Linked DNA regions of Homo sapiens: regions 1, 2 and 4 are each linked to region 3. The links come from fine-mapping of genetic effects on gene expression. A gene starts in region 3. Each other region holds a variant in brackets. All regions are shown on one strand. Distances are from middle to middle. Region 1 overlaps RAP2A (RAP2A, member of RAS oncogene family). Region 2 overlaps LOC105370324 (a long non-coding RNA gene). Region 3 holds the start of RAP2A (RAP2A, member of RAS oncogene family). Region 4 overlaps MBNL2 (muscleblind like splicing regulator 2).

The links. PIP is the estimated chance that this variant, and not a neighbour inherited with it, causes the effect.
Region 1: its variant is the best candidate, but not a certain one, in a credible set for the expression of RAP2A in neutrophils (BLUEPRINT, PIP 0.89).
Region 2: its variant is the best candidate, but not a certain one, in a credible set for the expression of RAP2A in iPS cells (HipSci, PIP 0.60).
Region 4: its variant is the best candidate, but not a certain one, in a credible set for the expression of RAP2A in monocytes (Quach 2016, PIP 0.75).

Annotation. Positions count from the first base shown.
Region 1 is chr13:97,467,374-97,473,531 of GRCh38, forward strand. It overlaps RAP2A (RAP2A, member of RAS oncogene family), which reads left to right. Exons shown (of 2, transcript NM_021033.7): 2 at 1-1,755. Among named protein-coding and RNA genes, the nearest start is that of RAP2A, 36 kb to the left of the region's middle. The variant T/C (reference allele first, on the strand shown) is at 2,481.
Region 2 is chr13:97,527,368-97,533,525 of GRCh38, forward strand. It overlaps LOC105370324 (a long non-coding RNA gene), which reads right to left. Exons shown (of 6, transcript XR_007063845.1): 5 at 6,119-6,158; 6 at 4,387-4,806. Among named protein-coding and RNA genes, the nearest start is that of RAP2A, 96 kb to the left of the region's middle. The variant T/TGC (reference allele first, on the strand shown) is at 3,234.
Region 3 is chr13:97,431,084-97,437,241 of GRCh38, forward strand. RAP2A (RAP2A, member of RAS oncogene family) reads left to right here and starts at 3,086. Exons shown (of 2, transcript NM_021033.7): 1 at 3,086-3,701. The coding sequence starts at 3,388. RefSeq lists enhancers at 2,183-2,322, 2,270-3,201, 2,473-2,602, 2,623-2,672 and silencers at 2,823-3,182, 3,203-3,262.
Region 4 is chr13:97,381,676-97,387,833 of GRCh38, forward strand. All of the region lies in intron 8 of MBNL2 (muscleblind like splicing regulator 2), which reads left to right. Among named protein-coding and RNA genes, the nearest start is that of RAP2A, 49 kb to the right of the region's middle. The variant C/A (reference allele first, on the strand shown) is at 3,341.

The sequences.
Region 1 (6,158 bases), 36 kb after region 3:
TGAACTTTTGACTCAAATTGCTACAGTTGCCATCACCTTTCTGTGGTAATACTACTGATATTTGCTTTTCTATATAAAGAAATGTTGCCTAAGGCTGTCTGGTATTTCTTTTCAAGGGTTTTCCAGTATGAATGTTAATGTTGTCAGTGTATGTATGAATATGAAAGTGCTTTGTTTTGTTTGTTGCTGTTTTTTGTTTATGTGTGTGTTTTTAATTTTTTTGTTCTTATCAGCAGTCTTGTGTTAGCACTGGGTAAGCTTTAATTGTCCCTTAGCCAATCAAACATTAAGGACTATGGAGGTCTTTTTTTTTTTATTTAACATGTCATTGTTCATCTATTAAATCTTGATCAGGGTTTCAAGAATGACTGCAGTGGGTTTTGGAAACAGACTTATCATTATTGATTTGAGGTTTCCCAGAGATATAGTTCACAGTTAATTGTTGCGCTCTAATACAACTGACCATTTAAAATTGAACAAGTTTATTGTTTTGTAACAATGTCAGTTGTTAAACCTTGACATTTCAATTAAAACATGAATTGTAGTTATAACTCAATGCAAATTCAACAGTTGTATTTGGAGTTAAATTATTTTAACAAATAAATTTATTTAATGAAACTCTGGATTTGCTTTGTTTTGTACATGCTCATGAGAGAAATGTATTATATACAAAAACAATTAAAAATTGCCATATAATGAATTTAGTACTCTTCATACAAAAATATTTTAGCTGATTTGAGAGTTCATCATATAAAAAGGCAGGTAGGTAGATAATTTTCATAGTCTTTAAAAATAAAAATAACATGTAAGAGACTGTAAAATCAGTTATTATAAATATAAACTTATCTCTACAAATGATTTTATATTTTGAATGGTAGCTGGTTAATTTAAAGCCTGATGCTAAGGTTAACAGAATTGTTCAAATAATTAACATTAATTAGCAATATCACTAAAATGATTCAGAGGCCTTCTAGTGATGGCTTGAAGCCGTCTTTCTGTTTTCAGGTCATGTGGATCCGAAGGTGCCAGAAGCTGAAGGTTGCCGCCAGGCTGTAGGGCCTGCTTGTTCTATATGGGGCCCTATGAAAGTTGACAGATGCTGTTAATTGTATACAGCCTTCAGCTGCTCTGATAAGGAGCCCATTCATTTCCTAAGCCAATTTAAACTATGCCTTTTGGTTATGTTGCCTTCAAACTCTGTTGAAATCCTCTGGCAGCATTCCACCAGTTGAGAAGCTTCATTGTTTTAGATTATAAGAATAATTTGAATGAATATAACAGAGGCACTGTAGATAGAATCCCAGATATTTAAAGGAAAACATGCCTATATTTTAGGAATATCTTCTGAAGAACTTCATAATTTTATTTGAAGTGTTTGTAAATTTTTTAATAAATTATTTAAATGTATCAATAGTGGATAGTTGGAAGAACGTCTTTGAGGCTAAAAAGTAGTACTCTGAAATTCTCTCAAGTTATATTATTTGTCTGTTAGAGGTCCACGAATGAAAATATATGTAGCTAAAGGAGTAAGGTGCTGCCCAATTTGGAACCCAACTGACCTCTAGGATCTATGAAGCAGAGAATATTACCACAAACTTCTGAAAGAAGCTGTTGACCTCGTTTCTTAATTTAAAATATGTTGCCACATAAATACTAATAAAACATAGTTGCTCTTCATCTCTTAAATGGATCATTCCAACTGGTTTTACATCGTTGAATATTATCTAGTATTTTTAATAAATATTTTCATAAATAGTTTTTGTGGTTTTTTTGTTTGTTTTTGAGACAGTCTCGCTCTGTCACCCAGGCTGGAGTGCAGTGGTGTGATCTTTGCTCACTGCAAGCTCCCTCCCGGGTTCACACCACTCTCCTGCCTCAGCCTCCCAAGTAGCTGGGACCACAGGTGCCCATCACCATGCCTGGCTAATTTTTTGTATTTTTTAGTAGAGACGGGGTTTCACCATGTTAGCCAGGATGGTCTCGATCTCCTGACCTTGTGATCCTCCCACCTTGGCCTCCCAAAGTGCTGGGATCACAGGCGTGAGCCACCATGCCTGGCCTATAAATAGTTTTTAGATAATATTCAACATCCCCAACATCGAGGTATTGAGTTTTAAAAGATTTGCTGCTATTCTAGGTAAGACGCTGTGTTATTTCTTTCTATATTTTCTTAGTAGTCTTCATGTTAGCCTCTAAGGATTCCTCCAAGATTTCTCAGCAGAGAAAAAGGTAGAGGACTAGCTGCTTGAAAGAGTAAATACGAAGACCTATTTAGTATGTATGAGTTGGGAATAAAACTGAAGGAAAGATTCTTGGTTTAGCTTATGGGGATTTTTTAGTATAAGATCCTCCCATTTTAAAAACTTCAGTATCAATGATTCATATTTACAGTTTTACACTATTTTGAGTGTGATGTGCTTTTATACCTTTAAAAACATCAGGATTAGTGAAGGGAAGAAAAGGTCACCCCAAGAGGATCA[T/C]GAGGTCAGGAGATTGAGACCATCCTGGCTAACACGGTGAAACCCTGTCTCTACTAAAAATACAAAAAATTAGCCAGGCGTGGTGGCACACACCTGTAATCCCAGCTACTCGGGAGGCTGAGGGAGGAGAATCACCTGAACCTGGGAGGCAGAGGTTGCCATGAGCCGAGATCGCACCACTGCACTCCAGCGTGGGTGACAGAGGGAGACTCCTTCTTAAAAAAAAAAAAAAAAAAGTCACCCCAACTTTCAGTTCCCCAAAACAGCCATGTTAACAATGGATGTAAATCATTCCCAGCATCTTCCTATGCACATATACATATGCAAGTACGTGAACATAGGTAGAAGGATAAATAACTCGATGTTACTTTTGAGAAACTGGCTCTAAGTACTAAAAATGAATCACTGAAAGTCACACAGCTAATAAAGTGGCAGAGTTGAGTTTCTAACTCTGCCACTTAATTTCTAATTCTTCTAACAAGCTCCTAACTCTAAATGACCTTTTCCCCACTGTTAATCCTTTCACTTAAATTGAATCCACTCATTCCATGCTCATTCAGCTATTATTTATTGAGAGGTTACACTTGCATCTGGCACTGCCACAATACAGAGATGGTCATCTACACATAAACCCTGATGTCAAAGACATCCTAGTCCTGTCTTCTTGCCATTCCTTTTTCTCTTAAGGCAGATACAGTTTAGTTTACTAGCAAGAAATAATTTGTACCTTCCCTACTTTCACATGTCAGCATCCCAGTAAACCCAGGCTGAGCCGAAATTCCAGACACAGCCCCAGAGACTGCTGCTGGCTCTGTTCACTTTTCAAGATCGGTGCATCAGCCTGAGCTAGTCCCTCCCGGGATCTTGAGGTGTCTGTGGGACACAGTAGACGGGGATGGCAATACAGCAGGGCTTCAAGGCTCTACTGTTACAGGCTGGGTCTACTTCTCAGGAAGAATTCAGAGTAAAAATAGGATTAGTGAGGGGCAGTGGGGATACAGAGGCAGGTTGGGGACAGCAGGGCAAAGGGTTCTATGTATCAGATACTACACTGAAGAATAAATGCTGGGTCCATGCCTATAGTTAAATACCAGGTGTTTTTAGGTTTCAGTGAGTTTTTTTAGTTTAAAATGTTGGTTTGTTCACAGCACAGCTCTGTAGTGTGTTCTGAAGAGGTCTTATACCATGAGAGGGTTTGCTGAAAACGATGATAGAGTCAAGCAAGTTTGGGAAACCCCACATAACACATCTCACATCTTGGAAAAAACTCAAATTCCACTCATGTCTCAAAAATAACTAGACCCCAGGACACTTTCTTTCAATTATACATAGTAGCACTCTCTGGAGCACAATTTGGAAAATGCTGCTATTAGATATTTGGCCTCCAAATGCTGATGTGGGAACTCTGTCCAGGTGAGGGGACCTGGATCGGTTGTGAGCGTGAGAATTCCTCTGACCCCTGTAGTCTCTAGAGGGATGGCAGAGAAAGGGAGAGGGTTGGGTGCAATAGCTCATGCCTGTAATCCCAGCACTGTGGGAGGCCAAGGTGAGTGGATCATTTGAGGTCAGAAGTTCAAGACCAGCCTGGCCAACATGGTGAAACCCTGTCTCTACTTAAAGTACAAAAATTAGCCAAGCGTGGTGGTACATGCCTGTAGTCCCAGCTACTCTAGAGGGTGAGGCAGAAGAATTGCTTGAACCTGGGAGGCAGAGGTTGTAGTGAGCCGAGATCAGGCCACTGCCCTCCAGCCTGGGTGGCAGAGGGAGACCCCATCCTAAAAAAAAAAAAGAAAAGAAAAGAGAGAGGGAGAAGAGGAGAGGAGGCAATCTACAGTTGATGGACATTGGAGTCATTCCCAGTTTGAGTCTATCATGAATAAAGCTGCTATGAACATCTGTGTACATGACTTTTGGTGGATAGACACAATACTCACTCCTAGGTCACTATCTAGGAGGGGAATTGCTGAACTACAAGACTTGATTGTCAACTTTGGTAAACATTGATAGTTTTATCAAGTGGTTGTACCAGTTTACATAAACAAGCAACGTGTGAGTACTCCAGTTGCACCATGTCACAGGATGGATTGCCTGGGAAGAGGGCTGTGATACAGAGCTTAGTGTGCAGGATGCTTATTACCAAATGTCCTTGGGATTAACTCCTGTGGAAGGGAGTAGAGGAAGTAAGATTGGCCAGAGGGAGAAGTTGTGTGATGCAGGGCCAACAACCCCCAGACAGAGGGAGTTAGAATGGGGCCCTTAGAATTGTCCTGAGTTGGGCTCAGATGGTTTAGTCCTCTGTACCCTCTGCCTGTCAGTCACTGTGACCTTGAACAAGATGCAGAGGCAATCCCTGAAGGATCAGAGAGTGAAGGTTGTCAGCATTCTCAGCAGCAGGGCAGCAGTTACTTGACTGAAAGGAGGTCCAGGTGGTGCCTCATGGCATCTACCAACTCCACCTTCCACACACATACCTGGCACTGTCAGGCTTTGTCATTTTTCATTTCATTATTCTGGTGGGAGCGTGGTGGTATGGCATTGTGGATTTCACTTCATGTTTCTCTAAGGCCAATATATTTATATGCTTATTGGTCATTGGTTACCCTCTTTTGTGAAATGGCTATTTATGTTTTTTGCCCATTGAGTAAATGTTTTGTTTACTGTTTCATGAAGTGACTCAAAAAAGATTTATTTAATCTTTTACTTACATATTTGTAGGAGTTCTTTACATTTTCTGGACACGTGTTTATAAGTACAGTGTACTATCCCAGTCTGAAGCTTGCCTTTTCACACTCTTGTTGATATCTCCTGATAAACAGAAGTCCTCACTTTTAATGAAGTCAATGCACCAATCTTTTATTTGATGGTTAACTGTTTTTGTGTTCTTTTAAAGAAATCTTTGCCTACTTTAGGGTTGTTCTTGACCTCCAGCCCCTCAGGGGTATGCTGAGTTGACCTTATGAATATGATAATAGGAAAATAACCATTGTAATCATACAGTTTATTGAACAGTGATACACCAACCATCATCATCAGTCTTTGTTTCATATTATTGATGAAATATTTAAACATTAATAGAGCTGGCTCTTGGCCAGTGTTTCTGCAAATGTGTTCCATCAAGTACTAATGTTGAATAGGAAAAAGATTTCCATGGTCGAATAAGTTTGAGAAACACCTGCTTAAACAAAGTTAAATAGGCTCTTGTGGTTTTCAATATCCTAATGTGGATTATGTAACATTGTGAGATATAAATACATTATGTTCTGCAAACTATTTAACCATAGGATGCTAGCTTTTCTTAGAACATGTCACAGGACTAGTATTTCATAGTTTGGTAAATACTTCGCAAGGCAAAGGGTATGATGTCCAACAAAAAACAGCTTAATAAAAAACTGAATCTGAGAGTTCATAGTGAAATTAAAAAATAATAATAAGGATGAGCCATTTATAGGATACTAGCTAATAGATATGGAAAACAGAACCAAGAAGTCATCCCTTCCAATCCTCCACATCAAAGTAGATTCAGGGAAGGATCAGCAATCAGCAATGCTGAGGCCATTGGGTGGAAGGGTTAGAGGGAAACATATATTCACAAATTACTTCTTACTTGCCAAGGGAAAGAGGTAGCCTTTCAGTGATAAGAACTGGCGGACACCACATGAACCAGGTGATCAAACCAAG
Region 2 (6,158 bases), 96 kb after region 3:
TATTTTTGGAAATATGGGCTAATAACAATGACGTATCAGCTGAATCTAGGACTTTTTCAGGTGAGCTCAGTGTCCCTAGAGTCTATAAAAGGCTTCGTCAAGTTGTTTTCTGTGACTCTAGCCTGGTAACTCATATCAACATAAATACAACTTTGCGTGTGGTTGATTCATATCTTCTCAAATGCCTAGAAATATTTGAGCATGAGAGAGTATGTAAATATCAGTTCCAAGAGGGACAGGCTACTGCATCTCTGACTGCCTGCCATGGAAGACACCTAGCAGATAGAGAACACACAGCACGCCATGGGATTGGAGTCCCCACCAGGCCAAAATGGAGTTTGCAGGGAAGCAGCTTCAATTTTCTTCAAGTAACTCAGTTATCTTCGAGTAGGACGTAAATTATTTTCTAAAAAAGCATAGATGGGTTGATTGGCTTCTGCTTTTCTGTTGTTTTTGTTTTTTTGAGATGGAGTCTCACTCTTGCTCAGGCTAGAGTGTAGTGGCATGATCTCAGCTCACTGCAACCTCCACCTCCTGGTTTCAAGCAATTCTCATGCCTCAGCCTCCCCAGCAGCTGAGATTGTAGGCATGTGCCACCACGCCTAGCTGATTTTTGTATTTTTAGTAGAGACAGGTTTTCACCATGTTGCCTAGGTTGGTCTCGAACTCCTGGCCTCAAGTGATCTGCCTACCTCGGCCTCCCAAAGTGCTGGAATTACAGGCATGAGTCACTGCACCCAACCAGACTTCTGCTTTTGTGGATGAAAATTTTTTTAAAAAATTTTGGCCGGGTGCGGTGGTTTACGCCTGTAATCCCAGCACTTTGGGAGGCCGAGGCAGGTGGATCACGAGGTCAGGAGATCGAAACCATCCTGGCTAACACGGTGAAACCCCATCTCTACTAAAAATACAAAAAATTAGCTGGGCGTGGTGGTGGGCGCCTATAGTCCCAGCTACTCAGGAGGCTGAGGCAGGAGAATGGCGTGAACCTGGGAGGCGGAGTTTGCAGTGAGCTGAGATTGTGCCACTGCACTCTGGCCTAGGTGACAGAGTGAGACTCCATCTCAAAAAAAAAAATTTTTTTTTTGTTTGACATGTCTAATCCTGATATTTTTGTATTCTTTGATGGATCAGCCTTCTGCTCAAATATTTCAAGGCAATGGAGAAGATCTTTACAATGTACAAAGATTCATGTATTTCACTAAGAGTATCAGGCTACAGTCTTCAGTAGGAGGATTAGTCCAAAACAACCAAGTCAGCATCCTCAGAAGCTGCTCCTCTTGTCATGTGTCTTGAGAATTTTTGTTGTGATCTCATATTTGTTGCGATTCTATGTGTGAAACTTCTGTGAGGACACCATGAGTGGTTCATTTCTCTAGATGACTTGCATTTTCTAAGTGCCTGGGGGTGTGATTTCCAGTTTGAGCATTTTAGAAATCTATTAATTTAAAAGTAATATTTTTATTATTTGTGAATAAATTTTAGTTTGTTGCTTTTCAGTCAGAGAATGTGGCCAATAAAAATGTTATTTTGAAACTTCTTAATTTTCACTGTAGTCAGGTAAATGGTTTATTTGCAACTGTCTGATAGACATAGTGAAGAATGTGCATCTTTGTCCGTAGGGCAGAAAATTATCTACATACCTAATTTTAAATCAGATTTATTGATCATATTATTTGAAATATCTTTACTCTTGTTTAATGTTCATTGATTTAAGTGTATTATAGTTTCTGGTATGATTTTGGATGTTATAAGGTCTCTGTATTTCTAGTTTTTATTTGTTTTGCTTTATGTATTTAACTGCTATTTGGAGACATTGAAATTTGTTAATTTATTGTAATTTATTATAGATTATGCCTTTTATCTTTTCCCCATACAATGCTTTATGCCTCAAACTCTTCTTTATCTAGTATTATGTTATAGCAGCTTTTTTTTCTATTTTGCTTAAAATGTCTTAGTATATTTCATTATTTTCTACATTTCTTTACTATTCTATTTTAGTTGAATTTATTTTTAAACAACACATAGCTAGAATGTGTAAGCATTCTGTTGTTTTTTTGTTTTGTTTTGTTTTTGTTTGTTTGTTTGTTTTGAGACAGGATCTAGCTCTGTTGCCCAGTGGTGCGATCATGGCTCACTGTGGCCTCAAACTCCTAGGCTCAAGTGATCTTCCTGCCTCAGCCTCCTGAATAGCTAGGACTGCAGGCGCATGTCACCATGCCTAGCTATGAAGTTGCTTGTCTTTTTATATAAGAAAGCATCTCTTCACTTTCATTGTGATACTTAGTATCTTTTATTTTTCCATTTTACTTTATGTTGATAATTATTTTGTTGTTTCTTCTTACTTTTTTTCCTAATTTGCTGTATTATTTTAAATTTCCACTCTAATTCTAGAAATTAGGAAATTCTCTCTCTTAGCTAGTAGTTTCCTAACTTTTAAGTCACAAAATCATAGATATGTGGTAATAAATTTAAAGTAATCGTCCCCATATCAAGATTTTTATTAATCTGCTCTGGAACCAACTTTGTTGAGACTTATTTAAAACTGAACTCTTAACCTAAGTATTTATTCAGTATATATTAGCAAGTGCTTACTTCTGGGAATACACATAGGATTTCATACAGAGACATGCAGTCTTTCTTTTCTGTTAGGGAATTATTACTTACCTCACATTACAGTTCACAGCCACATGACCACCATCCTTTAGACTTCACTATGTGTTTTACAGGACTGCTCACTGCGGTTTCTTGTATTCTTCATCTTCTCCTGTCCTGAGATCTAGGTTATCCTTAAATTCGGTTTGGTTGGAATATATAAATAAGAGTGTTTCCTTAAAGAGAGTGGGCCATAGCATTTTTAGTAATGGCTTTCTTCTGTTCTCACATTTAAATGACATTGTGATTCATCTCAAAATTTTGTAAATCTTTACTGTTTTCCAGTTTCCATTCTGTAGTGAGACTGATGCTAGTCTCATTCTCCTCTTTATGTAACAGCCCTTTCTTTGCACGGGGAAGTTTATGAAACTTTATCTTACCGGACTTCAGAAGACTCACTTGGATGAGATTGATTTCTTTGTCATTGTTATTACAACTTCCTGGTGTTAGCTGAACCAAAAGCAAGGTCTCGTTCAGCACAGGGAAGTTTCATCTATTATTATTATTTGTTGATCAGTATTTATCTTCCATATATTAATTTCTTTGTGTGTGTGTGTGTGTGTGTGTGTGTGTGTGTG[T/TGC]GCGCGCGCACGCGCGCGTTTTGAGACGGAGTCTCGCTCTGTCGCCCAGGCTGGAGTGCAGTGGCGCTATCTCGGCTCACTGCAAGCTCCGCCTCCCGGGTTCACGCCATTCTCCTGCCTCAGCCTCCCGAGTAGTTGGGACTACAGGCGCCCGCCACCGCGCCTAATTTTTTGTATTTTTAGTAGAGACGGGGTTTCACCGTGTTAGCCAGGATGGTCTCAATCTCCTGATCTCGTGATCTGCCCTCCTCGGCCTCCCAAAGTGCTGAGATTACAGGCGTGAGCCACCGCACCCGGCCATTAATTTTTTTCTTAAATGCACACCTATGTCTTCCATGTCTTTTGTCTTTTCATCTATGGTTCCCATATTTTTGCATCTATGCTCTGGGTTGTGAGCTATTTCCTCCACTTGATCTTTCTGATAACCAATGTGATTTTCATCAGGAACTGCTCTCTTTTCGAGTTCATCTCTTAACTTTACATCTAGAAATTAGGCATTTTTTTTTTAATTCCAGAAATTTTATGTTCCCTTATTTTATCTCCTGAAGACTTCTCATTACATTTTCATTAACTCTCTAGTCTGTTTTTCTATAAATTCTGTCTCAATAGGACCTAGGTAATCCAGTCATTTAGGCCTCACAGTTTATTGAAATAGTCTGTTATTTTCTTTTCCTACTCAGGCCAGTGAGTGTGGATTTCTTCAGTGAGAAATAATGCAAGTCCAGCTTGGGTCTTGCTGGGGATAAAGAACTGACAGGCCTGTTTTTTTCTTGCTCAGAGTAGGATAAAAGACATAGATAGAACAGAAAACATGCCTGCTACTTTCCCTCCAAAAGGGCTCTCTAGTGAATCAGTTCATAAGCTAAGGCATTTGGGCTATGACGTGAAGCCCCCTCTATTTTCAAGATTTTGCAGGTTCCTCAATCCAACCCCTTCTGTCCTCTCCAGGTCTGCTGGAAATGCTAGATCATCCCCTAAGCAGGCAGATGCAGGACTCCTTTGGAAAGATACACTCTGGCCAGCCCCTGGTACAGTAGATCCAGATGGCAGTGCATACCCAAAGACTCTGTAGACTCATAACTTATAACCTTGTCATGACCCCCCAAAGCCTGGAAACAAATTTTGTTCATAAGGAATGTGGAAGAAAAAAAGATGACAAATAGAAGCTGTTTATTATCTTTCACTCCCAAGGCCCTACTACAATTATAGAGGGAAAAAATTGCAAAGGCGTAAACAACAAAAACAAAAAATAAAACAGGTGATATCAAGGGCCACGTTTTTTTCATGTTTTTCAAATGCAAAGTAGATGGGGATTGATTTAGGGATTGATTTAGCGAAGGAGAAGAGGCTGCTGCTGTTGAGAGCAGATACTGGTGAGAGGAGAGCCCATTCACCCTGCCCAAGTGGAGGCCTGGAGGGAGAAGACACGTGGCAGGGGAGGGAGGCTTTGGAGGCAGCATGAGGTTGGGTTGAGAGTTTCCATCCAGGAATCCAGGAATGAGCAATGGAGCAGCCTGGCACCAACTTTGCAGGCTGCAGGAGGCTGATTTCTGGCCCTCTCCTGAAGGCCAATCTAGAGCAAATGGTTTGAAAATATTATAATTACATGAAATTGAAGAAGAAACTCCCTGATGATTCAGGTGATTAAACACTAGAGTAGGCTTTCAGATAATTCAGAGGCCTGAAGTTAGAATCTTATTCCAGTGTACTTTGCGGCATCCTTTTTGGAAACAGATGATTGGACTAGGTTCATTCATTCATTCATTTGACAAACAAAAAAAAGAAAGGCATCAGATACCAAATCCACTTCATATCTGTGATGCCTGAAGGATTAGGGGGCATTAGGAACAGTGAGTACTGGACAGTGAACAATTATCTGATTATAAACCATTAAATACCAAGATCCACAATATTTATTTGTTGTCTTTCATTTGCCCAGAGTGAAGCGAAATAAAGAGAAGGAGAAGTCCGTGATGTATTCATTGTGTGTAGTTTGAGCTTGTCTCTGATAGGGAACTAAAGAAATCAATTTAAAGGAATTAAATGATAACTAATAAAATTATTCAATGCAAGTAGCATTCCTGCAACCTGTTTCTCAGGGACAATCATGACAAGCTAAATACCCTACACTTTATTCAGTTCATCCGCCATCTCTCACAGGTGTCAATTTATGATGTCACCACTTATTTTTCCACCGTTGAGTTCCTCTGGCCCACCCAAGTCAGAATTCCACCCCCACCTCCTGATCACAAACTTTTCTGACAGAAGTCATCATCCCATTATTCTCTCAATTGCCAAATGCAAGGAACTTTTCTGAGCCTGTGTATTACTCCATTCTCACATTGCTATAAAGATACTACCTGAGACTGAGCAATTTATAAAGAAAAGAGATTTAACTGACTCAGTTCCCCATGGCTGGGGAGATGTCAGGAAACTTACAATCATGGCAGAAGGGGAAGAGGCATGTCTTACATGATGGCAGGAGACAGAGACAGCGTGCAAGAGCAGGGAAAACTGCCTTATAAAACCATCGGATCTCATGAGAACTCACTCACTATCACGAGAACAGCATGGGGAAACCACCTCCATGATCCAATAACCTCCCACTGGATCCCTCCCCCTTGATATGTGGCAATCCTGGGGATTACAATTCAAGATGAGATTTGGGTGGGGACACAGCCAAACCATATCAGTCTCTCTCTCCTTTACTCTCTCTGTCTTTCTCTGATACATTAATCAGCCCTGATGTCTCTATGGCATAGGGTCATGTTGACAACCTGCTTTACCCTGACATTCTCCCATAGGTTAACACTTGTTGGATCTACTCTTCTGGCCCACCCTATAATGCTGGTCCTCCTTAGCTTCTTGATCTTCTTAGGCCATACCTTCATCGAGTTCCATGGTTTTGTTCCAATCCATGCGCCA
Region 3 (6,158 bases):
TAAATTCTCTACACGTCCTGACATCCTTTTTATAGCAGCTAATCTTTCACCCAACATTTCACCTACAACCACAAATCAGGTAAGTACCATCATTTAAGCCAGAATAGGTGAGAAAATATGCTCCGACCTGTCATGTTTCTTTTGCCTCTTGGTGGTTAAAAATCAACCTTTATGGTACTGAGCATGAAATCTGAGGCCTGTCAATATAAGGCCTGTAAATAAATGAACTGTAACCACCCCAAGGGCTGCAGTCTCTATACCCCTTCTTATCAAAAACGTCAGCATTGATGAGAGGTCAGGGGAAATAGCCTGAGAAATGTCACAAAGCTGTCCTACTCTGTATTATGCTAAATGGAGTGACTACGGAGCCCACTCACTATTTTTGTGACAGCTTCAATCCAGAGCTTCTCAACATCTAGGGACCTAGGAGTCATGAAAACAGTTACTTAAGGCAACCTTCTGGACCCCACAATCCCAATACAAATTTCTCAAAAACATTAATCACTGGAACTTCATTCCTTGCAAAGTAAATGGACTTAGAGCTCCTTTGTAATGCAAGGTACTAGATGAGTTGTCATGATCTAGAGAGAAAGCTTCACGCTTCCTGGCTCTATTTAACAACCCTAAGAACTTCTTATCACCAAGATGCACAGTTAGAATCTTAAGACAGTCTGTCTTTCCTTGGAAAAGAAGTATAGCTTCTACTAACCCAAAGTAACCATGAATAAGCATACCAATTTTACACAAAATATGAGACTTCTGGAAAGCTAGGTGAACACCATACTTACCTACATCCTCTTGAAACATCCCTGCCAAAGTAGCTCAGATATGAAGCATCCATGTAAGCTCTTTCAATTTTAATTCACTATTTCATGTTAACTAGCCTAGGATGAAATAGTAGATCCTCTTCGGTTCCAGTTCCCTTAAAACAGTCCTGATTCTTAGTCCTTTTTATTAATATAATACCTTCACTGCTGATTCTGGTGGCTCAGATAGTACCATTCATATTTTAATGATATGTAATCAAGAAATGCTGAGTTATATTTTACTACATACACATTTTTAAATTCAGAGGACATTTGTCCTTGATAATTTTAAATGAAAACTTGGTGTGTGTTCATTACAGCAAGGTAATGCAAATATAAGTTATCCATTCTAATATAACGAAGCTATAGGGAAATAAGAAACTACTAAATTTGAGTAGTCTTTGTAGTAGTTTGACTATCGACAGAAAAGATGGTGAAAGAATACCTGGCTTTTAACTCAGACCAAAATCCCCTCTGCATGATGACCTTGTGGGAAAGAGGAACGGGGAGAGGTATGCCAGGCTCTAACAACAGAACTACAGAAACGTGTTATTCGCAGGAAATGTGCGACAGTAACGAACAGGTGAGACTAGTTTGAGAAGGACATAGTTTAAAGAAAGTAAACTGAATAACCAGTTACTGCAAAAAATAATGCAGGAAAGCTTGGGGATGTATCGTCTCCTAAATTTGACGTTATGGGTGGGAGAGGATGTGTAACTAAGATGCAATGCTAGCGACAGAACGCTAAGTTTTAAAACTCAATAGTGAAAGAAAAAAAATAATGTTTTGGGAGGAACGCCTGGAAGACCCATGCAACTGCTGCACGATGTTTCCTTAAGGACCGGAACATTTCTCACCCTGAAGACAAAAGTCCCTGTGTTCTCGATTCAGCCCACATCCCTCAGCACCATTTCCATGCCCATCATTTAGGCAGAATGCCACGGAGGCGACGTGAAAAGTGGAATTCATCATTCTGGCTTGCAACGCATCTTGTTCTTTTGCCAGAACAGGGCACAGCAACTGGCTCCTCAATCTCTGCCCCTCCCAAACCCCAGCAGCCGGTCCCTGTCTCCATCCCGCCGGCCTCGGTGGCAAGGGGCTCGCGAGCTCTGGTTGGCTTGGCCGAAGCTTCCGTCACTCGCCAGCTCACCTACGATTGGTTGGCAGAGCGTGCGCGAAGAGCCCCGCCTGGCAAGGCACTGGGAGGTGGGCTTGCGGATCCTACGACTAGCGTTTTTCTCGATTGGTTGAAGGAGTAAAGGCACGTGGTATGGGGGCGCTCTCTTATTGGTCGTGAATGGTACCTTGTGGTACAGAGACGTGATGTGGTTGGCTAGAATGAATCCCAGCTTCCCACTAGATGCCCCTAGCTGGCTGTTGCTATGAGGAGTCCAGGGCCTTCCGGCTGCCGTTCGGGATTCCGCTCTCCAGGTTTTCAACTCACCCGTGGCTGACAGGGCGTGGGAAGAGCTCGACTTCAGTTCGGCACCGAAAGGGGCGGGTCTAGAAGAAATGTGGGCGGGTCCAGAGGGTTGGTGGGCGGGACCCCGGCGACGTCAGCGGGCTTGGACCCGACTTCCGTGGTGTGTGGCCGCCTCTGACTCGCCCCTCTGGCGCGCTGCTAGAGGGGGGCGTCACCCTCCCATCAATGTCCTAACGCTCCAAAGCTTCATTTTGTTGCGTTTACACAACTTCAGTCAGAAGCCTGTAGGTGCCCCCCCCTTAAAGCTTCACATGCTAATACAAGATAAAACCAAAGCTCTAGGAGTGCTGACAGACTGGGTGGCATCGGACAAAGGCCCTCGCGGCCCCTCTTGGGCCTTGGGCATCTCTCCTTCACTCCCCGCCTCAGGATAAAGCTTGGAGGTAGCTCTAGCCCCTCTACCATCTCATCCCTTCCGAATTCTTAATGTCTCGGGAGTCTCAGGTTGACGCTGCTCCTGGCTTGGGCGGGAACTGCGCATGCTCGGTACACAGGCCCTGGGGTCTGACTGGGCGCGCTGGGTTCGGCGCTGCTCGGCGGTCGCGGTGCTTGTTTATCTCCGCGCGGGCAGAAGCTTCCGAGCCCCGCAAAGCCTCTCGGGAGCGCTCGCGGCCCGTCGCCTAGGGGGCGGGGGCGGGGCTGCGCCGCGGGCTCCGCCCCGGCCGCCGGACCCCGCCCCTGGCCGCGCTGCGGCTGGGGCTCGGGCGCGCGCTCGAGCGCTGGGGGTAGCGGCGGCGGCGGCGGCGGCGGCGGGCGGGGATCTGGGCGTGGAGGCGCGAGGGGCGGGGCGGGCGGCACTGCGGGCCCGCGGCTCGGGCGGCACCAGCGGCTCCCGGTCTCTCTCTCTGCTCGCCCTCAGTCCCACCCGGTGCCTACGGGGCCGCATCGCCGCCCGGCTCGGCCCGGCCCATGCCCAGGGCCGCTGCTCCCTCAGTTGCCGCCGCCGCCGCCGGCGCCCAGGGGGCCGCCGCGGCTGTGAGGTGGGGGCGGCAGCGGGAGGCGGCGGGGCGGGCCGCCGGGGCCGGGGCTGGGGGCGCAGCGCGGCCGGCGTAGGTCTATGTCGCGGGCGGCGGCGGCGGCGGCGGCCGCGGAGGGACGATGCGCGAGTACAAAGTGGTGGTGCTGGGCTCGGGCGGGGTAGGCAAATCCGCCCTGACCGTGCAGTTCGTGACCGGCACCTTCATCGAGAAATACGACCCCACCATCGAGGACTTCTACCGCAAGGAGATCGAGGTGGATTCGTCGCCGTCGGTGCTGGAGATCCTGGACACGGCGGGCACCGAGCAGTTCGCGTCCATGCGGGACCTGTACATCAAGAACGGCCAGGGCTTCATCCTCGTCTACAGCCTCGTCAACCAGCAGAGCTTCCAGGACATCAAGCCCATGCGGGACCAGATCATCCGCGTGAAGCGGTGAGCGAGGGCACACGGGGGCTTGGCGGCTGCACCCCGGAGTCACCGTCCCGGGGCTGGAACTCCCCGCGCGGGGCTCCGGGGAAGGGGCTTTCTGGGGGGTGGCTCCAAGCTGGAGGCTTTACTATTGTCATTCTGCTCCTCCTCCTCAATCTCAAATTTGAGTGCTTTGTTTCACAACTAAAATTTGGCATCGTGTTAGCCCACAGAACAGCTCTTTGTCTCTTGGACGTTGTTAGCATTGCTTGTTACAGAGCCCCCAAGGAAACAAAGTTTAAAACTTGCAGGGGGGAAAGGGGTGGATAGATTTGTCTTGGGAAGAGAGGAACTGTGCAGGTATAGTCGAGACATTTGCAGACTGAACAACAACAATCTGCCTTGGCAATGTTTGACAGTAAAAATCGCTCACACACCTATACAGTAAAGTCAAGTCCAGAGGAAGGAGACCTTTCTCATCTCGTTAAAGGTTTATGGTTCCAAGGCGTTTTACAAAAATTAAGTCTCTAATTTAGTGCAAAACTTTAAAGACAGATTATTAAATTATTTGAAGACATCATAAGCTAAATGGGGTTTCGAGAATATTAACAGAGGAGTACAAATAAGCCATTCACAGGAAAAGAATGCAGCTTAACTGTTTGTTTTTGTTTTTTTGTTTTTAATATAGCCGCCTTAACCCCTTCCAAAAAAAAAAAAAAAAAAAAAACACCACCACACCACCACCACCAGTTCCTGGAAACAAAACAGAAGCTTCTTCAAAAGTGTGACACAAGTATTAGCTAATTTAAAGTTAATGTTAATAAGCCTTTATATATATATATAAATTCTTTTCTAAAGTATACATTTTGGAAATATGGCTGATAAATGATTTAAAATGTTTGTTTTCTCTTAAATTCACTGAATATATTTTTCCGTGTAATTTTAAGCATTAGAAATGTGATAATATCTTAGTTCAAAGTTTTGGCAAATTTTTCTAATTATCATTTAATTACACATTACTGTTTCATCTAGTTCTTGTTAGTTAATGCCTGCTGATAATTTTGGTGTCCTTTTTTTCCTGCCTTATTCTACCTAGAGCCTAAATCTGAAGACCTTTACTGAAAGATGGTTGTAAGTGCACCGTAGACACAGTCACATTGTAAGTCAGTTTGAGTCCACTCATTTTGAAAGAGCAAGGACCAAGTTATGTGTACCCAGGGGATGATCAAAAATTCATTACGAGTAGTGAGTTTTTAATGCAACCTATGAGATCAAAGAGAAGGCTCTCTCTCTATTGCTCCACCCCCCCTTAACTGAGTATGCACTTTAATCGCTGAACTAAAATCGTGCATGTTATTCATCCTTGTGTTAAATTCCAAACTAGAATAAAGCAGATATTTTCGTGGTCTCTGCTGCTAAGATTTGTAAATTTGATAGCTTTGTACTTCTCCAGTATCATTTTCCTAAAGTTAAATGTTTATAGTTAAGAGATGAACAATTCTGGTGTTAAACTTAGTATGAGGATGGCATTTAAGGGGCTACATTTAAGTTACTTAAATTCTTATTACCCCCTCCCCCAACCACTCAATTAAAAAGAAACAAACCAAACCAACTGCAGGGTAGTCTGATACATTGCCACATGTCAATGTTAGGCCAAATGCATACATCAAAAAATAATCTAAGTAAATGCCCCAACAGCCTCACCCTTCACATTTAGATATATATGCTTAAAGATATGAAGATGCACATATACACTGATAAAGCCACATACCCATGGCTAACTTCTTGACACAAGCCTAGGGAACAAATATGGCAAAATATTATTGGATAATATGGTCCACATAATTTTGTAGTTTCTTGTAATTTAGTGCAGATTACTTTTCTCAGTTATAATAATAGGTTAGTCTAAACTCAGCATATTGGAGCAATTTGTTTATTTTCACTATGACCCAGAGGAAAAACATAGAGTAAAATTCTGCATGCCCAGTATCATTTTACTCACTAGTCTCAGTTCTTGATATAAAAAGATCATTGATCAGCTGAAGTAGAGTTCATAAATTCTCTTCACCAGAATTCAACCGTTGTATACATAAGAACCTCTTGGACCCTCACTTGTGTGTCTTTGTAATATGGTAGTAGTAAGGTATTTTACACCTCATCCTAACCCCAGCGTCTGGCTTCCCATCATTGATGGAGAGGACATGTGAATGCAGGTGGCCTCTTCTTTACCAGTCTTTCAGTATTTGATATCTACTGTCAAATTCAGTATTCAGCTTTAGGTCTAGGTCAGCACTTTTCAATAGAGATATAACGTGAGCCACATATGTAATTTTAACATTCCTAGTAGCTGATTTTTTAAAAATAACATAAATATATGGAATTAATTTTAATGTATTTTATTTAACCCACCATATTTAAAATAGAATCATTTTGACATGTCAGTATTCAAAAATTATTAATAAGGTACTTTACTTCTTTATA
Region 4 (6,158 bases), 49 kb before region 3:
TCACGTTTATTAAATTTTTATTTTTCACTCCTGAGTTGCCAGTTCCTGTTCTTTAAAATATTCCAGATATACTTATATCAACAATAACCATGAACAAAAATAGATATATTAGGAAAATATTTTCAATGTATACAACAAGGTAGGTCTTAATATTATGTTACATATTATATTAATTAATATTATGTAACATATTGTCTGCATATTACATATATTACATATTATGTTACATAATATTAAGACCTACCTTGGGAATACAGCAGTGAATACAGTGCTGATTTTTAAAGGTATAAAAATGTTTTCTCAGATTCTACTTTATGTCCAGGAGTCATCTTCAGTGAAGCAGCCTATTTAATCTCAGAGAGCCTCACTTCCTACACAACTTACTGTAAATATTTTAAACACTTTCAAATATTTTCTTAGTGTGTCCCACATATTATATATTTTTTCTTGATTTAGTAGAGGAATTTATCCTGCTTTAGTACACATACAGTCCCTAATTTTAAACATATTCAAAATTACCTTTGTCATTTGGTTTGAAATTCAGTTCTCCTACAGAGACAGCCATGGCCTTGGTGGTTAGATCTCTGGGCTGGCCTACAACCATTTTATTTAGTTTGTGGCATTTTTATAAGTAACACAGTGCTAAAGCATGGCCCAGGCCAAATGCCACTCATGTCTATGATGTTGCTATATCTTTGGGATTCAAGAAACATATCACCAAACCCCCAGATGTCCATGCAACAGAAAATAGAAAATTCCGTCACCTCCTCCACCTGCTGGAGCTGTGGAGGCGCCATAATCCCTGGTGAATTCCATGACTAGAATGTCATCCGGGGAAAGCCTGTGGAGTCGGAATGGGAAGTATGGTGTGGAATCACAAATGTTGGGTAAGGAATAGGAAGATAAAATCTCGGGCCTGCTTCTGGGTAGCCACCAGACCCATTCACACCACCTTCTTCCCCATTTCTCTTGATGCCATGGTTTCATCTGCCAACTATTTTTTTTTTTTTTTTTTTGAAAAGGGTGTCTCACTCTGTCACCGAGGCTGGAGTGCAGTGGCGCCATCTTGGCTCACCACAACCTCCAACCTCCGCCTCCCGGGTTCAAGTGATTCTCCTGCCTTAGCCTCACTTGGGCCATGCCTGGCTAATTTTTTTGTAGAGACAGGGTTTCACTTTTTTTTTCCTGGCTATCATGCAGTCCTTCCAATCTAGGGTTTTGTTTTGATTTTACCTTTTCTGGCACCTGCTGAGGAAACACAGTCGCATAACTCCCCTCCTTCTGAATAAATACACAGTGCTCTTGAATATGTCTTTGCTTAAAACACTTCTAGAACGCCAGCGGAAAGGGCCAGGAAAGAAAAGTCTCCTTCTCATGCCTCTTTACCTTCATCCTCATTTATATCATATAGGAGAAGAAAAGTGTTCACCCTTGGATGACATATGGGTTGTTAGATGGTCTGAGGACAAGATTCCCATCTCAGCATGAGAGCCACAGAAATGATCCTCAGAATTCCCCCAGGGGAGCTAGGATTGAAGGAGACTGTCTGGAGTCAGGGAGGGGATTATAATCAAAGCCTAACTGCAATACTCATAAGAACCTAGATGTTTTTACATGTGACATGGACTCATGCAAAGAGCAGAATCTTATTCAAAGTTGAGCATTCCCGTTTATGAATTTTATCCAGATACTCTAAGTTGTCAATGTGAACCCTGGTCAGTAATCTTCAGCGAGGACAGTATTATTGCTTTTCATGTAAAACGTCAATTATTAATAGTTTTAAATGACAATTTTTCTTTAGTATATCTAAAAATATTTTGTTCAAATATAATCAAGTGGAAAATATTGGACAGAAATGAGTCATCCACAAAAAGTATCATTGAAACTAGGGGAATTAGAGCTTTGAATATAAACTTTCTACTAAACAGCAGAGGACAAAACAATAATTCTGGCAAAACTCCTCTTGAAGGTGCTATGAAATATTACGGACATTACAACCTCAGTGTGCTCTTCTCCAGAGTAAAGCTGATTGTCATATTTGATAATTTTTCCCCAGGACCTCAGTGTATGCCTTTTCTGTGCAAATAAAACTACATTTTGAAAATAAGTCAAATATGGCATGACACTGCCCAACCTCCGAACAATATTCCCCCAGAATAATGAATCAGACTATTTTTAAGTGTCTTTTCATATACTACTGATGATCTCTGAGCTTTTTATATAATTAATTTTTTTTTTTTTTGAGCGGGAGTCTCGTCCTGTTGCCCAGGCTGGAGTGTGGTGGCGCAATCTTGGCTCACTGCAACCTCCACCTCCCAGGTTCAAGTGATTCTCCTGCCTCAACCTCCCAAGTAGCTGGGATTACAGGCGTGCACCACCACACCCAACTAATTTTTGTATTTTTAGTAGAGACAGGGTTTCAACCACGTTGGCCAGGCTGGTCTCGAACTCCTGACCTCAAGTGATCTGTCCACCTAGGCCTCCCAAAGTGCTGGGATTACAAGCATGAGCCACTGCACCCGGCCTATATTTAAAATTTTATAGTCATGAAATAGGCCAAAGAAAGTTCTTGAAAGTGTACATTTGTTAACATGTATAATTATAATTGCTTTAATTACTTTTTTATCTGATACCATATATTCACTAAGAGACTAAGACACTTCTTTTGACTTCAGTAATCCATACTGTGATTAAGTACTGAATTATACTGGAGTCAAAATGTACACATGTCCCTTTGCCTCTGTGCAGTTTGCTTCAACTGAAAGATCTCACAAGTGTAGCCTCTCAGGCAAGATCAGGGCATTTCAGACAGTCATGGCTGCTGTGGAGAAGAGGTGTGGGGCAGTGGGGAAAAGGTGGAGAGAATATTAAATGGTGCACAGACTAAAGGAGGAAGCAATGCTAACAGAGAGTGGGAAGAAGGAACTTGTGAGACAGAATCAGAAGAAAACACTGGATGAAGAAACACAGACTGGGAGGGTGAGCAACGTGCGAGCCTCCTTAGCTTAGCCCTATTTTTAGGAAATGCCAATTAATTGCCTATTTTTAAATTAATAATAAATTTTGTTTAAAGAGGCAGTGAAATATTATTAATATCTTTAACTGCCTTCTGGGGAAACAGGGCCTTGTAACCATGGCAAAAGATTTCTAAGAAACCTACCAAGTCTAGAAGGTTACTTTAGGTGAATTTTTATCTGCTGTATTTCCCTTCTCTGTGAGTGATTCTGCCCCCAGCCTGGAATATTTTCCCCTTTATCTATAATGGGGAGTAGGGAGAATGGGAGAATGGGGAGGGAATGTTTATTTCTCTTAGATATTTCTGAGTCCTTAACTACCCTAA[C/A]AAGGTGCACAGATGACACATCTTGTGCAAAGGGTTCTTTTTCTGCCCCATTCCTGTTTCTCCCATGAATGGTCTGGTGGTCTTCTGTTGATGCCAGCATTGTGGCACTGTGTCTTCAATGACTTCAATTTATTTAGCCATCCATGCAAGCAACAATTAATAAATTCCCAGCCCTATCCTAGATACTGGGGCTATAAAGATGAATGAGACAGTCCCCCTGTCCTTAAAGAGCTTGGTTTGGCTGTGGACCCAGTTAGTGCACCAGCCCTGCTTGGAAGTACCCACTTGAGATTCCATGTTAGTGACATCAAGATGCATTGAGATTCCTTAGTAGTTTAGCAAGGCTGCACAAATATGTTATAAGGTATTTTTTATCTATGCCATCCAAACTCAACATTACAAAGACAGTCCTAATGGCTATTCACAGGAAGACTGAACCAAAACATCCATTATTTCTCTTTTCTAATTGCTTGATGACTTGCATATATGGAAATTCTTGGCATTTTCACTGGAATGTTTTCCTATCAATTAAGCAGAGCAGGAACAGTTCTTACCAAATTTAATATTGAGCTATCATTTTAAAAAATAACTCATCTGACATCCTTGAATCTTTGAAATGAGCACTTTTACATAAGAAGTATAAACACTTCTAGAAGTCACCTAGAAGCCCACAGTTTCCAAAGTTATACATACGTACAATTCCTGGAGATCAACCTCAAGGTAGAAAACCCAGAATGTATTAATACTTGGTACCTCTGAAATACTAAGGAAATTCTACGTTGATTTGTCTTCTCTTGCACCATTCTGCATGAGGACTGGTTAGTTCAGCTGTTAAGTTCATGGTGCTGATTAGTTCAAGTTCAGTGTTTCAGTCTCTGCAGAGACTATTTTGCTTTGAACCAAGTGTGTTTCTCACCCTGTTCAGCTCTTTTTTGAGCGCACATCATGAGTGACAGGTATGGATGGCTCAGCCTAAATCCATCATCACATGGCAGAGACAAGAAAACATGCATGTTTCATAACTGATGACTCAGTCAAGGGAGGGTTGGTATTTTCTTTTTAGGTAGAGGGTGCCTTGTTGGTCACATACTCTCTTTCTTTGGGCGAAAGCCAAATGTCTGAAAGTTGTAGGACTAACTCTCCTGTAAACCTGCTCTCCTGGTCTCACTCTTACCACTGCTGCCTGCCATGATGTTGCCTGTAGCGTTGGCTGATGCCAGCTCAGGAAGCCATCCAGACTTAGTGAATATAGTGGATATTGCCTTCAAGAAAGTAAAGCTGATGAGGACACAAACCAGCAGCTCTTAGCTGAATTTAGCCCAAAGATATATATGATCCTTCTGTGATGTGAATTCATTGCTGAATTTCCAGCTTCTTTTGGCAAATGAAAAGGTCAAGTAATATGGAGCCCATGTTTCCGCAGGTAGCACTTGGCTGGGGCTGAGTGGCTGTTGCCACACCCTCGACCTGGCCTATTCACTTACATATCTTTCCTGCCTGGCCCCAGGAGGCTTAGTATTAGACAGTACCTAATCTGGTCCACTTTTTAGTAAGGTTGGCTACCACTGCACTGTGAGTCAATGGCAGGCAATTCACTGAGGACACTATAATTATTAAATGGCTGCTCATAACATATTTGATAGAAAAATAACCCATTTGATGCTTTTGAAGCCATTCATGCTTTGTCTTCAACAAGTAAATATGAAACTAATCAGGTACTGGATTCACATTGGGGTAACTTGAGAACGTATATTGAGCAGAATCATCAGATTCTTAAATCCAACCACCTAGGGGAGACAGTTTAATTCACTTAATGTGATTTCCTTTCCTTATTGATAAGCAGACTCCATTGTAGCCAGCTGATATTTTTGCATCAGAGATACTCTTGTTCCACCCAGAGGGGCCACTGAAGATTTAGAAAAGTACTCATGATTTGAGATCAAGTGTATCTTTGCCTTAAAAACAGAATCACAGATACTGTGGGCATCAGCTATTCCTATTTTTGTCTGTTCTCCTTTTAGTGGAAAAAGGAATTGAAAATAATGCTTGCAGTTCAGAATTTTGATTTACCATACTAGATTAGCTAGAATCTTATTTAATAATTTAACTTCCTTCTCCTGTCATGGTGCTTTGTTATATAAAACACTACTTACTTGAGGCAATAGTCTCCCAGGGAGACAAATAGAAATATAGCTTGTTGAATATCTTTGATTTCTTTCCTACCGTCATAGTTTGCCAAGATTTCTCAGCAGCTGAGGCAGCGGCACTGTGGTGCGGTAGGGTGTTCTGATGCTATAAGCAGACACGTTTGCAACATCCATCTGGAGGAGCCCTGGGGCAGGATGTGGTTGACCACCCAGGCAAGGATGCCCTGAATGAGAGGCCCAGCAGCCTCACAGTCCCCCAGCAATTTCCACCCATCTAGCCCCTCCAAACAGTCTCACTGTCTCCCCTCTAAAGCTCCAAGTGCATTTGCTGTAGGTTCCACCCCAGGGCCTCGCCTTCCCCTGATTCCCAAGCTCACAGGGGTTCTTCTAAGCACCCTCTGAAGCAGGCTCCATGAGGCACAGCCATGCTCTTTGGAACCTCTGTGTCCCGTCGCCCTATCTCAGACCGTCCCCATGCCCTGGAGGGGATGCCTTCACCAATGAGCAGAGTGACATCTCCAAACTCATGCTGGTTTGTGCAAGCACTTTGTACATTGTGCAAGCCAGTTAAAATTATGCACGTCATCTTTTCCATGTCTGCAAAATATGATCACAATACTGACCTAGCTTGTAAGACTCTAGCTTGTAAATTCTCAGAGCCTCCTGAAAAT